Homo sapiens: one gene and its partner. The protein of the gene in region 1 interacts with the protein of each later gene in a pairwise test. Each region holds a gene or a part of one and is shown on either strand. Other genes may lie near its edges. The genes, in order: ZNF596 and PSMA6.

Region 1 (8,667 bases):
AAGTGATAGATGAGAAAGCTGTTCTAAGCACGTGTAGAATGAAAGAATGAATCAGTGAAAAATGAGTGAGTGAATGAATCCGTATATACATACATAATAAATATAAAGAGACTCACCAATAGAGACCAGATGACTGATGTTCTCCAACATCACATCTTGAAACAGCTTTCTCTGGGATGTGTCCAGCAGGGCCCACTCTTCTTGAGTGAAGTCTACAATGATATCCTCGAAGGTCATGGAATCCTAAAACATTATGGACATTCTACTGCAAACAGGGCTATCTCTGCCAATGTTCAGTGGAGCAAGATCAAAGTGACTGTACTAAGGAAGTGTGGGTGGTATGAACAGAAAACTCAAAACAGTGTTTGGGGTTCCTGTCACATTGCTTTAAATCTGAACTGGGAATCTGGCTTTCAGATTTACTCATACATAAAACTTCACATAGAGAAATATCACATGTGGTGTGGCATAATATAACCTGAAGATTTCCCAATAGACTTCTAAAGTATAACTTACAGATACTAATTATGAAATCTGTACTTGGAAATTTAGAACTAAAATTCTCCTCTCCACCACCTTCAAGAAAATCTATAGACTCACTACAAGGGAGGCAGCATCCATAATTTGTCACGTTTTAATCAAGACTATAGTTAGATATTCCACTATAGGACCTCAGTGTCCTCAGAATAAAATAAAGACCTGTTATGAGTTCAAAAAGGTCCAATGAGATAGTATGTAAAGTGGTTCCTATCTATCACTTTTTAGATACAAGCCACAAATACATTATTCATGAAATGACTGAGAACACTCAGTTGTGTGAACAACTTTCATATAGAACTTGGTATCAGCAGATGCAGCCTCTTATGTCTACACAACTCAGGTGTTCACTGTTAATGGATAAGGATGAATGGCTCAGCAGCACAAGCCAGGGACTCTAAGACTTCAGTACTGAAAGATGGTCTCATCCTGCCACTTTCCATGGTCTGAGGATTTCCTTTCTCAATTTTATGTGGGATCTTCAAACACCAGGTGATATAGTTTGGCTCTGTGTCCCCACCCAAATCTCATCTTGAATTGTAATCCCCACATGTTGGGGGAGGGGTCCGGTGGGAGGTGATTGAATCATGGGGGTGAACTTCCCCCTTGCTGTTCTCATGCTAGTAATATCTCAGAAGATCTGATGATTTAACAGTGTGTGGCATTTCCTGATTTGGTCTCTCTCCTGCTGCCTTATGAAGAAGGTGCTTGCTTCCCCTTCCACCATGATTGTAAGTTTCTGGAGGCCTCCCAGTCATGCTTCCTGTTAAGCCTGCAGAACTGTCAGTCAGTTAAACTTCTTTTCTTCATAAATTACCCACTATCAGGTAGTTTTTTATAGCGGTGTGAAAATGGACTAATGCACTAGGTACTATTCTATTTTGTTTCTTCATGTTGTCTCTAGATTTAGGGGAAAAAAAATCCTTTGATTGTCCTGGTCTCTCCACTTCAAAAATTTCCTCAGAGTTTTAAATTTACTCTGTTTCCTATACTCCATCACTTAATGCACAACCAAAATTAAAGAAACAACACTCCAGTTGCTTCCAGTTATCAAATTTGATCAGAGGTTAATTTGGGGACAAGGGTAATAAGAATTTTAATTTTGCTTTTTAAGTTTTTCAAAAGTTCACATTTATTCTCTCAAGACATTAAGATTTTGAGATAGGAAAAATAAATGAATAATTCCTCATTGTCTCCTCTGTCCTAACCCTATCTGCTTTCCCTTCAAGTTAAACAGCCCTCCCCTAACACCTGAAACACTAGACTAACTGAGCTTGCCTTTGTATGGGCTATAACCTGCTCTCACTTATTTTCACCACCTACCCACATATACTCTCAAGCCCACTCCTGCCAATAACATAGGTAATGAGTGAATTTATTTCCCCAACAAGGCCATGAGAGGCTCGTAATGAATGATTTCCCTGAGACTGGATGAGAGAAACAAAAACCTCTCACATCTTAATACACAGCCTTAGTAGAGGCTGGAATGCCTTAGTGTACTGTTGAAAGGACATTACTTCTTGATGACTCTTTGAGCCAATGTAAACATTCCGAAGCCCTGGGGAATCTTAATTGGAGCTTGGATCCTTGAGTGCACTTAGAACATCCATGTTAATAGGATGAATCTGCCCTTAGGCTGGTAACAGGGGTACAAATTTCAGTAGAAAGAAGAATTTCCCACTCACCGGTGATGGCATTGTACTAGCTCAGCCACCAAATGTATTCCTCTGGGTTTTCACTCACACCATCCAAGCACTAAGAAGACAAATCTGAGCAAAAACAAAAACAAAAACAAAAAAACCATGACACTCCAGTTTTGCTTCTAACATCTGCCCCAAAGCTATTAGCCCCAGTCCAACCAACAAGGACATGCAGTGGGTAGGGGGTGGGTTGGGTTGGTGGCTCTCCTCTCCCAGGGTCAGAAGAAATGACTATTGCTGCTAATAAAGATATAAATATTTTTATTTTAGACCTAGAAATGTGAAAATCATGGAGTTTCATATGCCACCTAGCGCATGGAATTCTGAAATGTTTAATTCCTTCTATGATTCCAAATCCTAAGAATCCCTGAATCATGGAGATGTGGCTCCACCTACAGATAAATCCTGGAATTTCTCAGATTTAATTATTCTCGGTTTGTGTGCTTGCAGGCTTTCTCCACATGCATCTCAGCCCTCAGGAGCCTCCCTCCATTCCTTCTCCCTTCTGCTGGTCCTCTGGATACACTTGTACTGAATGATTCTGTCTCTTCCATGTGAGGCTTCTAGAAATACCAGTCCCTCAAGTCTGACCTGTAGATAAATGTAGCATGAATTTATCTACCAAGCAGCTTCAAATTTCATTTTATCATGGTGGATTCCTTAAAAGACACACTTTACAAGTGACATACCTTACAAGAAATGCTAAAGGGAGTTCCTCAAGTTGAAATGAAAGGACACTAAGAACATGAAAACTTGAACATGTATGTGACATTGTTAGTTGTAAGAAATAGATAGTTTGGTTTTCATCCCCAGTTCCTGGCACAGAGCCACCCAAAACCCTTGTAATTTCCTAAGCAACAGAGTTGCTAGGAGAAGCTTTTGTTCTTTTTGGTCTTTGACCCTGGTTCCCAGTACAGAGCTCGTAATGCCTTGGAACTTCATAGGTGATAAGAGTGTCTTCTGTTCTAATGAGACAATTATTACTAGGCTCTAGGATGGGGGGTGATCACCTGAAAGACCATGACTTGATCAGAAGCTTGGAACGTACAGTCCCACCCCCTATCCTTTGGGAAAGGGACAGAGGCTGGAGATCGAGTTAATAACAATTATGCCTACTTGATGAACACCACATAAAAATCCCTGAATGATGGGATTCCTAGAGCTTCTGGGTGGGTGAAGAACACATCCATATGCTGAAACAATGGTACCCCCCAACTGCTTGGAGACAGACCTCCTAAACCTAAGATGCTTCCAAAACTTGCTGTATGTAACTCTTTAGCTGGCTGTTCATATGTAATATTTAAAATGTCCTTTGTAATAAATCAGCTAAGTAAACTGTTTTCCTGGGTTCTGTGAGCTGCTAAACCCTAGTGAATCTAACATAAAAAGGAGTTCTTGCCGGGCATGGTGGCTCACGCCTGTAATCCCAGCACTTTGGGAGGCCAAGGCAGGAGGATCACCTGAGGTCAGAAGTTCAAAACCAGCCTGGCCAACTTGGTGAAACCCCAAAACCCCGTTTCTACTAAAAATACAAAAATTAGCTGGGCATGGTGGCAGGCACCTGTAATCTCAGCTATTCGGGAGGCTGAGGTATGAGAATCGCTTGAACCTGGGAGGTGGAGGTTGCAGTGAGCGGAGATCGAACCACTGCACTCCAGCCTGGGTGACAGAGTAAGACTCTGCATTGGCAGTGGGGGCGGGGAGGAGTTCTTAGGACCCTCCAATTTTTAGCAAAGACAGACAGTTTCTTCACTTTTAAAAAATTCTTTTTCTACTTGCTCTTCTGATTGAATAATTTCAAATAACCTGTCTTTGAGTTCACTGGTTCTTTCTTCTGCTTGATCAAGTCAGCTCTTGAAGCCTTGTATTGATCCAGTTCAGTTACTGTATTCTTCAGCCCCAGAATCTATATTTGATTCTTTTATTATGGTTTTTCTTTGTTGATATTCTCATGTTGTTCATGTATCCTTTTCCAGATTTTACTTGTTATCAGTGTTGTCTCATAGCTCATTGACCTCCTTTAAGGCAATTACCTGTAATTCTTATCAGGAAAATCAGAAACCTCCATTTCTTTTTCTTTTTTTTAAAGCGGAGTTTCACTCGCGTTGCCCAGGCTGTAGTGCAACGGCACGATACCAGCTCACTGCAACCTCCACCTCCTGGATTCAAGTGATTCTCCTGCCTCAGCCTCCTGAGTAGCTGGGATTATAGGTGCCCGTCACCACGACCAGCTAATTTTTTTTTTTTTTTTTTTTTTTTTTTTTGTATTTCACCATGTTGGCAAAGCTGATTTTGAACTCCTGGCCTCAAATGATCTGCCTACCTCGGCCTCTCAAAGTGCTGTGATTACAAGTGTGAGCCACCGCACCCAGCCAGAAACCTGTATTTCTTTATGGTCAATTATTGGAGATTTATTTTGTTCATTCAGTAGGGTCACATCTTGATTTTTCAAGGTTGTGCAATATCTCCCAGTCTCACAGAGCTGTGCCAGTTGCTATACGATGCCCTGTATTTTTCCTTAGAGCTGTGCTCTGATAGCCTGGGACACGAAATGCATATTTCATTACTCTCCTTTCCTCCACTAGTCTCACGTATTCTCCTTGGGGAGAAGTCTAAGGGGTCTGTGCTTTCTACCAGTCTCACAGAACCATGGGGGCCACCATAAACCTCCACACAAGCCTCCTAAAAATTCTCTACCTTGGCTCAAGAGTATGGGAGTCACGCTGCAGACAATGGAGGTATAAGAAAGACATCCAAGGCCCCTGTGAGCTTCTCAATCTCCACAGGCATCACTAAAGGTGGGTGCTAGACTGAAAGGCATGTCCATCCTCATGGGCAATCTCAGGATTCTCTAAGTCCTCCAAGGAGGCCAGCAATGGCTTATGTGGGCCTGGGTCACCCCTGCCAGCAGGGACTAGTACTAAGGATGAGATCCACCAATGGCCACAGCTGAGTTATGCCAAATGAGATGTCCAGACCTCATGGTGCCTAGGAAGACAGATGGCAGAAGCTCAGCCAGGCCATGGAGATTAAAACAGTGCTAGGGGCTTAATGTATGTTTTTAATGGGTCTGCTACATGTCAAGTTTGGATCTGGAGTCCAGCCTATAATCCTAGCAAAAATTAAACACCAAATATGATATTCAATAAAGTGTATGTGGCTAAAAACATACGTTGGAAATACACATAACTAGAAACATCCAAATTCAAAGAGAAACTGCTAATTCCACAAACATGATAGAGTAATTTAATAATGAGATCACACATACATAAATAGTAAATATGAACTGTATATTTATCTGAGTTCTAAAGACTTTTTTTTCCGTCTCAGTACACTAGTGGGTATACGTCACCAGTAAAATCAAAGGGGTATTCCAATTACATTCATGATATTAATAAGTATGATAAATGTAAGTAGCCAGAACCATGGAATTGGGGCTACAGCTGTGATCTTCAAGAAACGTAAAACTTTAAAAACACTCATAAACCAAGAAAAAGATAAAACAGGAGTTACTTGACTTTCCAAATTGTTACAAATTCAGTACATATTAATAAGACTTAAAAAGATAAAACAATTTAATAAATAATAAAATAATGTAATGAATGAACAGATTTGACAGAAATCAATAATTAAAAAGTTTTGAGAGCAAAATCATGAAACTGAAAAGACCCACGGTGGAAAGAAAAAACACAGGTTAATAAAAGAGACTGTATTTATTTAAAAGTAGTAATTTAAAATCTAAGAAATGGGAATAATTATATTCCAACATGAATATGTATATTACTTTCCACAAAAAGAGTAAAAACTTTCCCTCATTAATCAGCACAAAAATCTGATTAGCCAATTTTAATGTTTAAGTTATATATCAGAGTTTAACTGTAAAAGTGATTTGTGAGAGTTCTTACATGTGAAATCACTTCTAGTTCCTTTGTAACCTAAGTTATTTTGAAGGAGAAAAATAAGCCTGTCCTCATTAGTTTATTATGCTAATCAAAATGAACATGAATGTAACAATAACTACAAATTTAACCAACAATTTTCCTTACTTACATTTGCAAAAATCATCAATACAATTTTAGCCATTTGGCTATTTATTTTGGCCACCTGGCCATCACTGGTATGGTTAAATAATGACAGAGCATGGTAAAGTGGAGTTTATTGCAATAATAAAAGGATAATTCCATACTAGAAAACCTATCATTTTCACAAAGTAATTTTAAAGATTAAAAAAATCACATTAATAGACCTTTGAAAAAACATTTTCATATAATTTAAATCTTTAAAAATAATATAAAATCTTTAAAAATCATACCAAATTGTGGGGACTAATTCTTCTTAATCAATAAAATCTCAACAATATATTCAGCAGTTAACAAAAGAACCATTTCCACTAAAGGTAAGGCTGGAAAAAGGAGGCTGGGTGAGGCTGATGCCATTCACCACTGCACATGATGCCTGAGGTGGGACCAAAACAAGAGGGAAAAGGAGAGGGACTACAAAAATGGAGTCAAAGAGCTGCAACTGTAGTTATTCTCAGATGACGTGACTGTAAACTTGAAAAAGTGGAATCAATTCTAATTATCAATACTAATAAGAATATTTAAAAAGTGGGCAAAACTATTATGAATATTCTGAAATCAATATTTCCTGTTTAGCAACATTAGTCCTTAAAAAAAGCAAACACACAAAATCAGTGTCTATTTACAACAGGCAAATATTATGACTACGATTTGAAATAAATTTGTAGACCCATGTAAATAAATTTTAAAACTTAATGAGGATATAAAAATGACATGAATAAAGCCTGAAAATCCTATTATTAGAATGGAGGACATAGTGACATAAAACCTCAGTGACTGTAGACTCAGGGCAACCTAGACTTAAAAGTCCCATGTGGTCTTTTACATGTAAAAAATGAGAATTAGTCTAAAAGTCAATTTTGTCTAAATTTTGATTTTTGGTGAGTATACAGTCAAAATAGTTGTGAAAAGAAAAAAATAAAGTTGTCAAATTTCATGTAACCTATGTTATTTGGAAATTTAAAATAAGTCATATAAATATTTATAACAATATTAAACAATTTCATAAGTGGACTGAATAAAACATAATATTTTATCATATACAATAGCTCCTGCCTTCCTGAGGAAAACATAAAATCAAAGGGCGTGAAGGAAGGATTTTGGTTTCACTGCAGAAACATAATAAGACACCGAAGTGTGTGTTTGTGTGTGCGTACATATAATTAAACTACAGAATATAAAATAGCATCTAATATACATCAAAAATGAGTTTCATAGAAAAATTCATTTTACACATATGTCTATAAAATAATAAAATTTATTCAGCCTCACAATTACTTTGTGAACTGGAAATAACAATGAGTTGTCATTTTATCCAAATCTAAAAAAAAAAAACATACATACAGTATCAAGTTCTGGTTAAAGTAGTAGATGAACTTTATGTGGTACATAAGAGTATCTATACAGTTTGTGGGCTGCATCTTGCTAGAATATATTACATTATAAAATGCACCATTTATTTACTCTGCGATCAAACCCCCAACTTGCCCCAAGTGGAGGAACCCTCAGACATTTGCAGAGCAGTCAGTGTGCTAGTAAGCAGCATTCTTTACAAATCTATGAACATCAAGGTCTCCTTGGAACAGATGTTCTGTGAACAATTTATAAAACTCCCTCCTGTTAGACACTTAGGTTGATTCCATTTTTAAATCAATTACTGAATAAAACACACTCCATCGTGTGGATGAAATGCTACCTTAATTTGTCAAAGCTATCATTTTCTAAACTTTTCTTTTTAATTCAAATCATTAATATTTTGTGGCCAGATCAATACTGATTCATTGTTTTAAGCTTCAAATGCATTATACAGTTGGGCAGAACACATTTCCTCTCATCAATCTTCTTTTCCAGGATTTGTCAGATATTCCTGACATTAATTCACTACTAATATGCACAGTTTCTCTAATCATGGTCAACAAAGATCTGACAGTGCATTGTCCCTAAACGACCCATACTTGCCTCACTGACACCATGTGGCCCACTTCCCATCTATAATCTATGTCTGGGTGTGAAGCCCTTCCCATATGATCCCCCGAATGGAACTTCACAAGTTCGAATTCACTGGGTCACAGTGTGATAGCGTGAAGATGGGAGGACGTTAAGGGAAGGCTATGGGTGAGTTGGGAAATGTGTTAGGCAGGGTCAGAGATTACCACATCCTAAAAACAACACTTAAGGCGGGAGATGACAAAACAATCAATGAATAACATGACTTTTTCCAGTGAAAGTGCCATATCTAATCCTTTTCCATTTTTGTTCTCTGAGCTTCTTTCTTAGGGAAGATCCTTCTTGAGAAGCCCCTGCTGAGTATTAGGAAAATGCATTTCAGGACCTCTCATCAACACACCCTC
Region 2 (8,667 bases), on another chromosome or scaffold:
ACTGTGGCTCATGCCTGTAACCCCAGCATGTTGGGAGACTGAGGCAGAAGGATCGCTTAATGCTAGCCAGGAGTCTGAGACCAGCCCACGCAACATAGTAAGACCCCAACTCTACAAAAAAATAATAAAATTAGCTGGGTACAATGGTGTACACCTGTAGTACCAGCTACTAAGGAGGCTGAGGTGAGAGGATTACTTAACAAGGGAGTTCAAGGCTGCAGTGAGCCATAATCATGGCACTGCACTCTAGCTTGGGCAATAGAGCAAGATCTTGTTTTAAAAAACAAAAAACTAATAAGGTATTGTGTACCTCAAAATAGCTAGAGGAGAGGATTTTAAATGTTCTCACCACAAAAACACCGTGTTTCAGGTGATGGATATGCTAATCACCCTAATTTGATCATTATAATGTATACATGTATCGAAACATCACATTGCACCCCATAAATATGTACATTAGGTGTCAAAAATAAATTTTAAAATAGGAGGTGAAAACAACAGGATGCAATTATTTTCCAAAAGCCTTGTTTTTATTTATATAGAGTCCTAACCACTTCGGTGGTAGGAGGAGTGGGAGAGGCTCCTTTTTCAATCCAGGGACCTCCATGATGTTGGTTTGTTGTTACCAAACACACAGGTAAGTGGCATCACGGATCTGGTAAACTAACGACAATGTTTAGTCTCTCTCTGCTAGAGCAACAAGGTGAGCATCAATCTCTGCTTCTGTAAGAATCCTAGAAGGCAAAAGGGGGAAAAAAACAACGATTTAAAAAAAATTTTTTCAAACACACGTAAAAGTGGGATAGTATAATAAACTCCCATATACCTATCAACCTACTTTAACAATTATCAATTTATAAACCAATCTTTAAAAAATCTATACACACACTTATCTTCCCTCAGATTATTTTGAAGGAATTCCCAGATATTATACCACCTTCACCTATACACAAAAATGTTTACTTTGACATCAGATTTAGAATTGTATCTTGAAAATAAAATTCTTTAGTTGCAGCTAAGATAGAAAATATTTCAATTGAATAACATAAATAAAGCTAAACTATAAAGTATTCTATTTAGCTTCTATGTCAAAATGCATTTATTTTTTATTTTTTTTGAGACAGAGTCTTGCTCTGTCACCCAGGCTGGAGTGCAGTGGCGTGATCTCGGCTCACTGCAAGCTCTGCCTCCCAGGTTCAAACGATTCTTCTGCCTCAGCCTCCTGAGTAGCTGGGACTACAGGCATGTGCCACTATGCCCAGCTAATTTTTCTATTTTTAGTAGAGATGGGGTTTCACCATATTGGACAGGCTGGTCTGGAACTCCTGACCTCGTGACCCGCCTGCCTCAGCCTCCCAAAGTGCTGGGATTACAGGCGTGAGCCACCTTGCCCAGCCGTCAAAATACATTTATATGTAGTATAACTGAAATTTATGTCAGCTCAAAGATAAAAATTCATGAAGAAATTTTAAGCATATTAAAGTGTTCAGATTCAGAAGTTCATGAAAATAAAGTTATAATTCTATGAATAGTCTACCAGCCAGAGAGTGCTCCATGTTGAACATATATTTCCTTTCTCTTTTTTTTTTTTTTTTTTGAGATGGAGTCTGACCCTGTCGCCCAGGCTGGAGTGCAGTGGCACAATCTTGGCTCACTGCAACCTCCGCCTCCCAGGCTCAAGCAATTCTCCTGCCTCAGCCTCCCAAGCAGCTGGGATTACAGGCGTCCACCACCACATCTGGCTAATTTTTGTATTTTTAGTAGAGATGGGGTTTCACCATGTTGGCCAGGCTGGTCTCAAACTCCTGACCTCAAGTGATCTGTCCACTTTGGCCTCCCAAAGTGCTGGGATTACAGGTGTGAGCCACCATGTGTGGCCCTGAACATGTATTTTCTAAATGATGTTTGCCTCGAAAGGAAGCAATTGTTTGGCAACCTTGTTAATGTGACCTATTACTACTAGACTTCTAAAAAGTGAAATTTGTCAAAAGGACATTTTTTAGTGCAACTGAAGGCAATATCAAGCAGTTTAAATAGTTGTTGATGCTTATGCTATGTACTGTAATTATTTACATATATTTACTATCACAGAATTTATAAATGATACAAAGTTTTTTGAAGACAAGATTTTTGATTCCTTACCAATTTAAAAAATAACAAATACAATTTTAAAGGTGGCAGGAAGGTCTCCAAACAGAAAAGAAAACAAGAACTAATTGTAGGTTCCTTAGAGAGATTTTAAGATTATTCTTGCTGAAATTTTTACTTAAAAAAAAAAAAGGCACCTTTTTCAAAAGCAACTTGATCCCTGCCCCCACCCCTCACCCCTACCCCAACCCAAGTTACAAGACTTCTTCCTACGGGAAGAAAAGCTAGGATAGATTCGCTTTTGGTGTTGTCGGTTGTTTTTTTAACAGATGAGGTCTCACTATGTTACCCAGGCTAGAGTGCAGTGGCTATTCACAGGCACTATCATTGCGCACTACAGCTTTCAACTCCAAGGCTCAAGCCATCCTCTTGCCTCAGCCTCCTGAGGAGCTGAGACTACAGATGCATGCCACAGCACCCAGCTGTTTTTTTTTTTTTAAAGTCCTATGAATTTTTCTGAATCTGTCATGTTTATATGACTTATCTGTGGGCAACCAAAAGAACAAATTAGGAAAAAAAAGAACAAACGAAAAACCTCTTCAAGGTCTAGTTAAGCTTAGTTTACCACTCCCGTACCCCACACCACAACCAAGACCATGTGTCTTTATGGTTGTGATCTAAGAATAGATACACATAATAGTTAAAATGCCTCCCAGTAGTTCCTTGTATCTGTCGATTTAACTGCAGTATTTTCATTAAAGATAAGAGCATCCTGGTCCATGGTATATCAACTGCCTCACAGGGCTGCTGGGAGGATTAAATGAGCTGATTATACGAAGCACTCAGTATGGATTTGAATCATGGAAGCTATAAGGCTGATGTGTGGGAGTTAGTCACTTAGTGAGTAAGAACACACACACACACACACACACACACACACACACACATCCAGCAACTGCAAGTCAATTAGCTGTATTCAAAATTTGGGCTTTCCAAAGATCTCTAGATAAGGGTCTGACATATATCAGTAACTCATATTGCTCCTCAAAGTTCTACTTAAATAACCACTAAATAACCAAAGTTCTATCTGAAAAACTTGCAAACTACTACTTTGGGAATTGAATTTGTATTGGCCTTAAACTAAAAAAAAGAAAACACTTATGCTAATTTTTTTCCTTACATAAGGAAGGTAACTTTATGTCATCTCTGGTGTTAGATATAAAATCACTCTGAAATAAGGAGAAAAGCTTTCATATCTGACTCTTAAATAGAGTCCAAAGTTTTAAAAACAGATCTCAGGTGCTGGGGAAAAAAACAAACACACAAACAAAAACTATAATGACAGTTAAAGAAAAAAGATTTCCCCCACAAGTTATAGGACACATGGACTCACACGCCTCCACCTTTCTAGTCTGCATGTGGCCCACAATATCACTCACCTGAATTTAGGATTTTCAACTGTCACTACTCCAACTTCTATTTCTGAAGGTTTGAAATCAATTGATAGAACAGTAGACAGGCATGTAATTGCAGTCTGAAAAAAAGTATTTAATGTTAAAATATAGTATTTTTTAGAGATTCCAAGGTTTTCTCATTCCTAGCTTATTCAAATCATGAGTCAATCAGGAGCTCCATGTTTCAATGAGGTAGTTCAATGTTACTAACAGACTGCTTAACTCTAATGTATTGCCTCCCAATGATGAGAAATTTTTTTCTACCAAGTCAAATAATAAAGGGGTCCATTAATTAAAATAGGATGATTTATACAAAAAGGTTTATTGGCTTCATGACCCAGGCACTACACTTCACTTAGCACTTGGGGTGAAATGGGAAAAGGATAAAGATGAATGATACTCTCTGCATCTTCAAGGAATTTACAGTAAAAACGATTTAAGAATGTTTTAAGTGTTGTTTGTTTGTTTTGTTTCTGTTTTTTGAGGCAGAGTCTCACTCTGTCGCTCAGTCTGGAGTGCAGTGGCGCCAGCCTGGCTCACTGCAACCTCAGGCTCGTGGATTCAAGCGAGTCTCCTGACTCAGTCTCCTGAGTAGCTGGAATTACAGGCGCCTGCCACCATGCCCGGCTAATTTTTGTATTTTTCATAGAGACAGGGTTTCGCCATGTTGGCCAGGATGGTCTCAAACTCCTGACCTCAGGTGATCTGTCTGCCTCCCAAAGTGCTGGGATTACAGGTGTGAGCCACCTTAAGTGTTTTTTTACCGGATGTGGTTATTTATGTAATTAATTATGAATTGCAATAAAAGAAACCTTTAAGAAATATTTAGACAGGGCCCAGTACTTCCTGAACATGAACTAGCTTTTTATCTCCTTTAAGCATACTTCCAAACCAAACGTAAAAGCATTAGATGGTAATTTTTTTTTGGTCACTTATCAGAAGCATGTTGTTAGCATCTTCAGAATGGCTTTAATTCCAGACTTACACCCAAAATCTACTAAAATTTTTGTTTTTAATTTCTTGGCAGTAAATAGGACTGGCCTCGAACACCTAGACTCAAGCAGTCCTCCAGCTTCAGCCTCTCAAGTAGCTGGGACTACAGGTGTGTGCCACCATGCCCAGCTGGTTCCTATTTTTATTTATATTTTCCTATTATATGCGTTTTGTTGAAAGCCACCTCAAATACATTACGAAATAAGGAATTAAGTGAATAAAAGCAACTCAAATTTTCCTATGTCAGCTGTATGATATCAATTTCATTATTAAGTTGACAACTTGAATCCTGGGATGTAATTCAGGAATAGCTTTGTATAGAAATTATACAAAGATCCTCACTGTTCTATATAGCATAAAAAAAGTCAGCTCCTTTTGGTTGACTTACTTCCACTGTCTGTTCAAATGTCCAATCAAATTTCTTCTTCACTTTTTTTTCAAGGAAGCTGGTTGACTCAGTTTGTTTAACTCCCGCTGCAGTGGCTTTAAACCCACAGTAGTAACCTGCAGGATCACACTTATATACCTGAGGGCCTTGCTCTTCATCTATACCAATTAAAATCATACCTAAAAAGAGAAAAGACCCTAATTAAATGTTTTAGCTTTATACAATGACATCTCCTCTTTCTTGGTGGTGTCACATAGCTGCTGCTAATCATGACTTTGGCCATCAATTTTAGGATATGTATTTTCCTTTAAGAAAACTGATAAAATACAGGTTATCACCACAGGTAAATTAGGTAACAGGTAAATTCCCATTTCACAAAAGGATTTATCACAGATTAAAAAAAATAGTTTGAATAATTACAAATACAATTTAAAAATAGTGTTTCCAATCCTTGCTGTTATCCAAGCATGTTTATTTGAACCCTAATCCTTCAAGATGTTGCCTGGTCAAATAAACTTCAAAAACACTTTTTTTTTTTTTTTTTTTTTTTTTTGAGACAGACTCTCGCTCTGTCTCCCAGGCTGGAGTGCAGTGGCACGATCTCGGCTCACTGCAAGCTCCTCCTCCCGGGTTCACGCCATTCTCCTGCCTCAGCCTCCCGAGTAGCTGGGACTACAGGTGCCCACCACCACGCCCAGCTAATTTTTTGTGTTTTTAGTAGAGACCGGGTTTCGCCGTGTTAGCCAGGACTGGTCTTGATCTCCTGACCTTGTGATCCACCTGCCTCGTCCTCCCAAAGTGCTGGGATTACAGGCGTGAGCCACTGCATCTGGCCAACCTTTTTTTTTTTTTTTTTTTTTAGGAGACGAGGACTCGCTGTTGCCCAGGGTGGTCTTGAACTCCTGGGTTCAAGTGATCCTCCTGCCTCGGCCTCCCAAAGTGCTGGGATTATAAGTGTGCACCACTGTGCCTGGCCCAAAAACACTTTCATATACCTTTTCTGGAAACAGATAATAAATAATAGCATATTAAATGCTGTGAAATATTCTGTTGTAGATTGACCTATTTAACTTTAACTCAGTAGTTCTTCTGTTTGTTTGACCAAGAAATACTTTTTTTTTAAAATAGAAATACCTATTAAGGTTCCAGGGAACAGTGTATGGGACACACTTTGGGAATGCTGGCACAAACTGAAATACACTTACAGGCTACCTGCTCACCTTTACACTGCCCATCTTCATTACTGTTGGTATATACTCCTCTAGTAAGTCACACAAACCAAGCTCTAAATTCTATACATGTAACTTTGTTACTACAATTCTAATGTTACCATATTATAGGAATACAATTAAAATAAACACCATCATTAAATTTCTTTCTACTCAGTAGAACAGGTAACAAAGTACTTAATGGTTTGACTGCTTTCTTATATTTGATATATACAAAATATAAGGGCAACACAAAAAAGTACCCACTTACTGCTTGGGGAAACAACAAATACTTCTTTCCTTCAAGGTCTTGCAAGATGAATATGATTTAAGTAATTTTTAAGTGAGAAGTCAAGAGGGTCAGATGCTAAACAGAAATCATTACACTGACTGCTTTAATGCTCATAAATGAATGACACAATGTCAGAAACAAACATGCACTGAATTTTTCAGGCTAATTTATTACATCACATCTAAAAATCAGTAAATCTCATCCCTCTCCCAATACAATTTTACTTGTTTTCAAAAATAGAAATTTATTCTAAAAATGTGAATTACACACCTGTGTGTGACCCTAATTCTTTAGGGTGGTCAAAACAAACAGCTACATTATTAAGATGCCTGATGCAGGTATTTCTATGGAATTAGTAATCTCGAATTGCAGTAGAACCTCATTACAACATCCTAATAATGAGGACTTGCATCTTTCAAATCACATACACCAAATGGAAATACTTTGATAAAAAGTCTAACAGCATCTAAAGCTTAAAGATAATGCCCGACATACTGTTGTGAAACCTATCCTTTAGTTCTGATTTATTATAAAGATTTTCCCACTCTATGTATTTTCCAAACCACATGTTCAGAACTCAAGTGTTATTTAAATAATTCTGTATACATGTTCTGTAAAAAGTTTCAATTCATCAATTATTTGGGAGACCTCTTAGCATACTTACAACAACCAAGAGGCCTCATTTCAGCATTCTGTGTGTAGACCTGAGAAATATCGGCAATTCTTTTACACAGCATGTCCACAGGAATCTCATAGCCATACTTGTATTTCCAGTTAGCTGCCTCATAGCGTGCCCTCTGTACCTGGGATCTGCTGTCAGCTTATAGCATAAAAAACAAAGATTTACCTGGTTAGAAGGAAAGAACAAACCTGAAAGCCAGGCAATTTAGCCAGGCAATTTTCCCACCATATAGACATACATGAGTTAAAGAGAAAGGGTCCGCTACGGCTTTTTCTCCCCCAATGAATACTAAATAACTCATCAACAAGTATATGAAAAAAATTTAAAAACATGAAGCTCTCTACACAGTACTCCCCTTTTATACTGAGCCTTTCATCAGCAGTCAAAATAGTTTCTGCAAGTATCCAGTAACTCCCAAAAGAAAAAGCATTAAGGAGGCAGGGCATGGTGGCTCAACACTTTGGGAGGCCAAGAGAGGCGGATCACTTGAGGCCAGGAGTTTGAGACCAGCCTGGCCAACATGGCTAAATCCTGTCTCTACTAAAAACATAAAATTAGCTGCACGTGGTGGTGCATGCCTGTAGTCCCAGCTACCTGGGAGGTTGAGGCACGAGAATTGCTTGAACCCAGGAGGCGGAGCAGCCTGGGCGACAAAGTGAGACTCTGTCTCCAAAAAAAAAAAAAAAGGCCTTGAGAGAGAATAATCTTTCTTAATCTTTGTTTTTAGGCTTAAATTAGTTTTTCATTTTTTTTTTAGAGATGGGGTCTTGGACTGGCACCCAGTGAGCCATCATAGCTCACTGCAGCCTTGAATTCCTTGGCTCAAGTGATCCTCCTACCTCAGCCTCCTGAGTAGCTAGGACTACAGGTATGTGCCACCATACCAGCTAATTTTTTTTTCTTCTTCAAATGGAGTCTTGCTCCGTTGCCCAGGCTGCAGTACAGTCTCATGATCTTGGCTCACTGCAACCTCTACCTCCCGGGTTCAAGCGATTCTCCTGCCTCAGCCTCCTGAGTAGTTGGGATTACAGGCACCTGCCACCATAGCTGGTTAAGTTTTTTGGTATTTTTGTTTTTATTTTTTGAGACAGTCTCACTCTGTTGCCGAGGCTGGAGTGCAGTAGTACAATCTCAGCTCACTGCAACCTCTGCCTCCCGAGTTCAAGCAATTCTCCTGCCTCACCCTCCTGAATAGCTGGGATTACAGGTGTGCGTGCGCCACCATGCCCAGCTAATTTTTGTATTTTTGGTAGAGATGGAGTTTCACCACGCTGGCCAGGCTGATCTCGAATTCCTGACCTCAAGTGATCCGCCTGCCTCGGCCTCCCAAAGTGCTGGGATTACAGGTGTGAGCCACCGTGACCAGCCCCTAGCTAATTTCTAAATTTGTTATAGAGATGGAGTCTCACCATGTTGCCCAGGCTGGTTTTGAACTCTTGGTCTTAAACAATCCTCTCACCTTGGCCTCCCAAAGTGCTGGGATTACAACTGTGAGCCACTGTGCCCAACCTAAAATAATTTTCATAATAATTCTCACTCACTTCTAACCGATGCCATTATTA

What was found.
Region 2: the proteins of ZNF596 (region 1) and PSMA6 interact in binary tests that used the Homo sapiens proteins (3 or more experiments, as listed by UniProt).

The regions. Positions count from the first base shown.
Region 1 is NC_000008.11:234,463-243,129, reverse strand, and holds part of ZNF596 (zinc finger protein 596), read right to left. Parts: exon of another isoform or gene 2,634-8,667; intron 2,307-2,633; 5' UTR 2,235-2,306; coding exon 2,223-2,234; intron 244-2,222; coding exon 117-243; intron 1-116. UniProt on the Homo sapiens protein: May be involved in transcriptional regulation.
Region 2 is NC_000014.9:35,309,316-35,317,982, reverse strand, and holds the end of PSMA6 (proteasome subunit alpha type-6), read right to left. Parts: intron 7,244-8,667; coding exon 7,088-7,243; intron 5,103-7,087; coding exon 4,924-5,102; intron 3,623-4,923; coding exon 3,528-3,622; intron 735-3,527; coding exon 677-734; 3' UTR 490-676; downstream 1-489. UniProt on the Homo sapiens protein: Component of the 20S core proteasome complex involved in the proteolytic degradation of most intracellular proteins. This complex plays numerous essential roles within the cell by associating with different regulatory particles.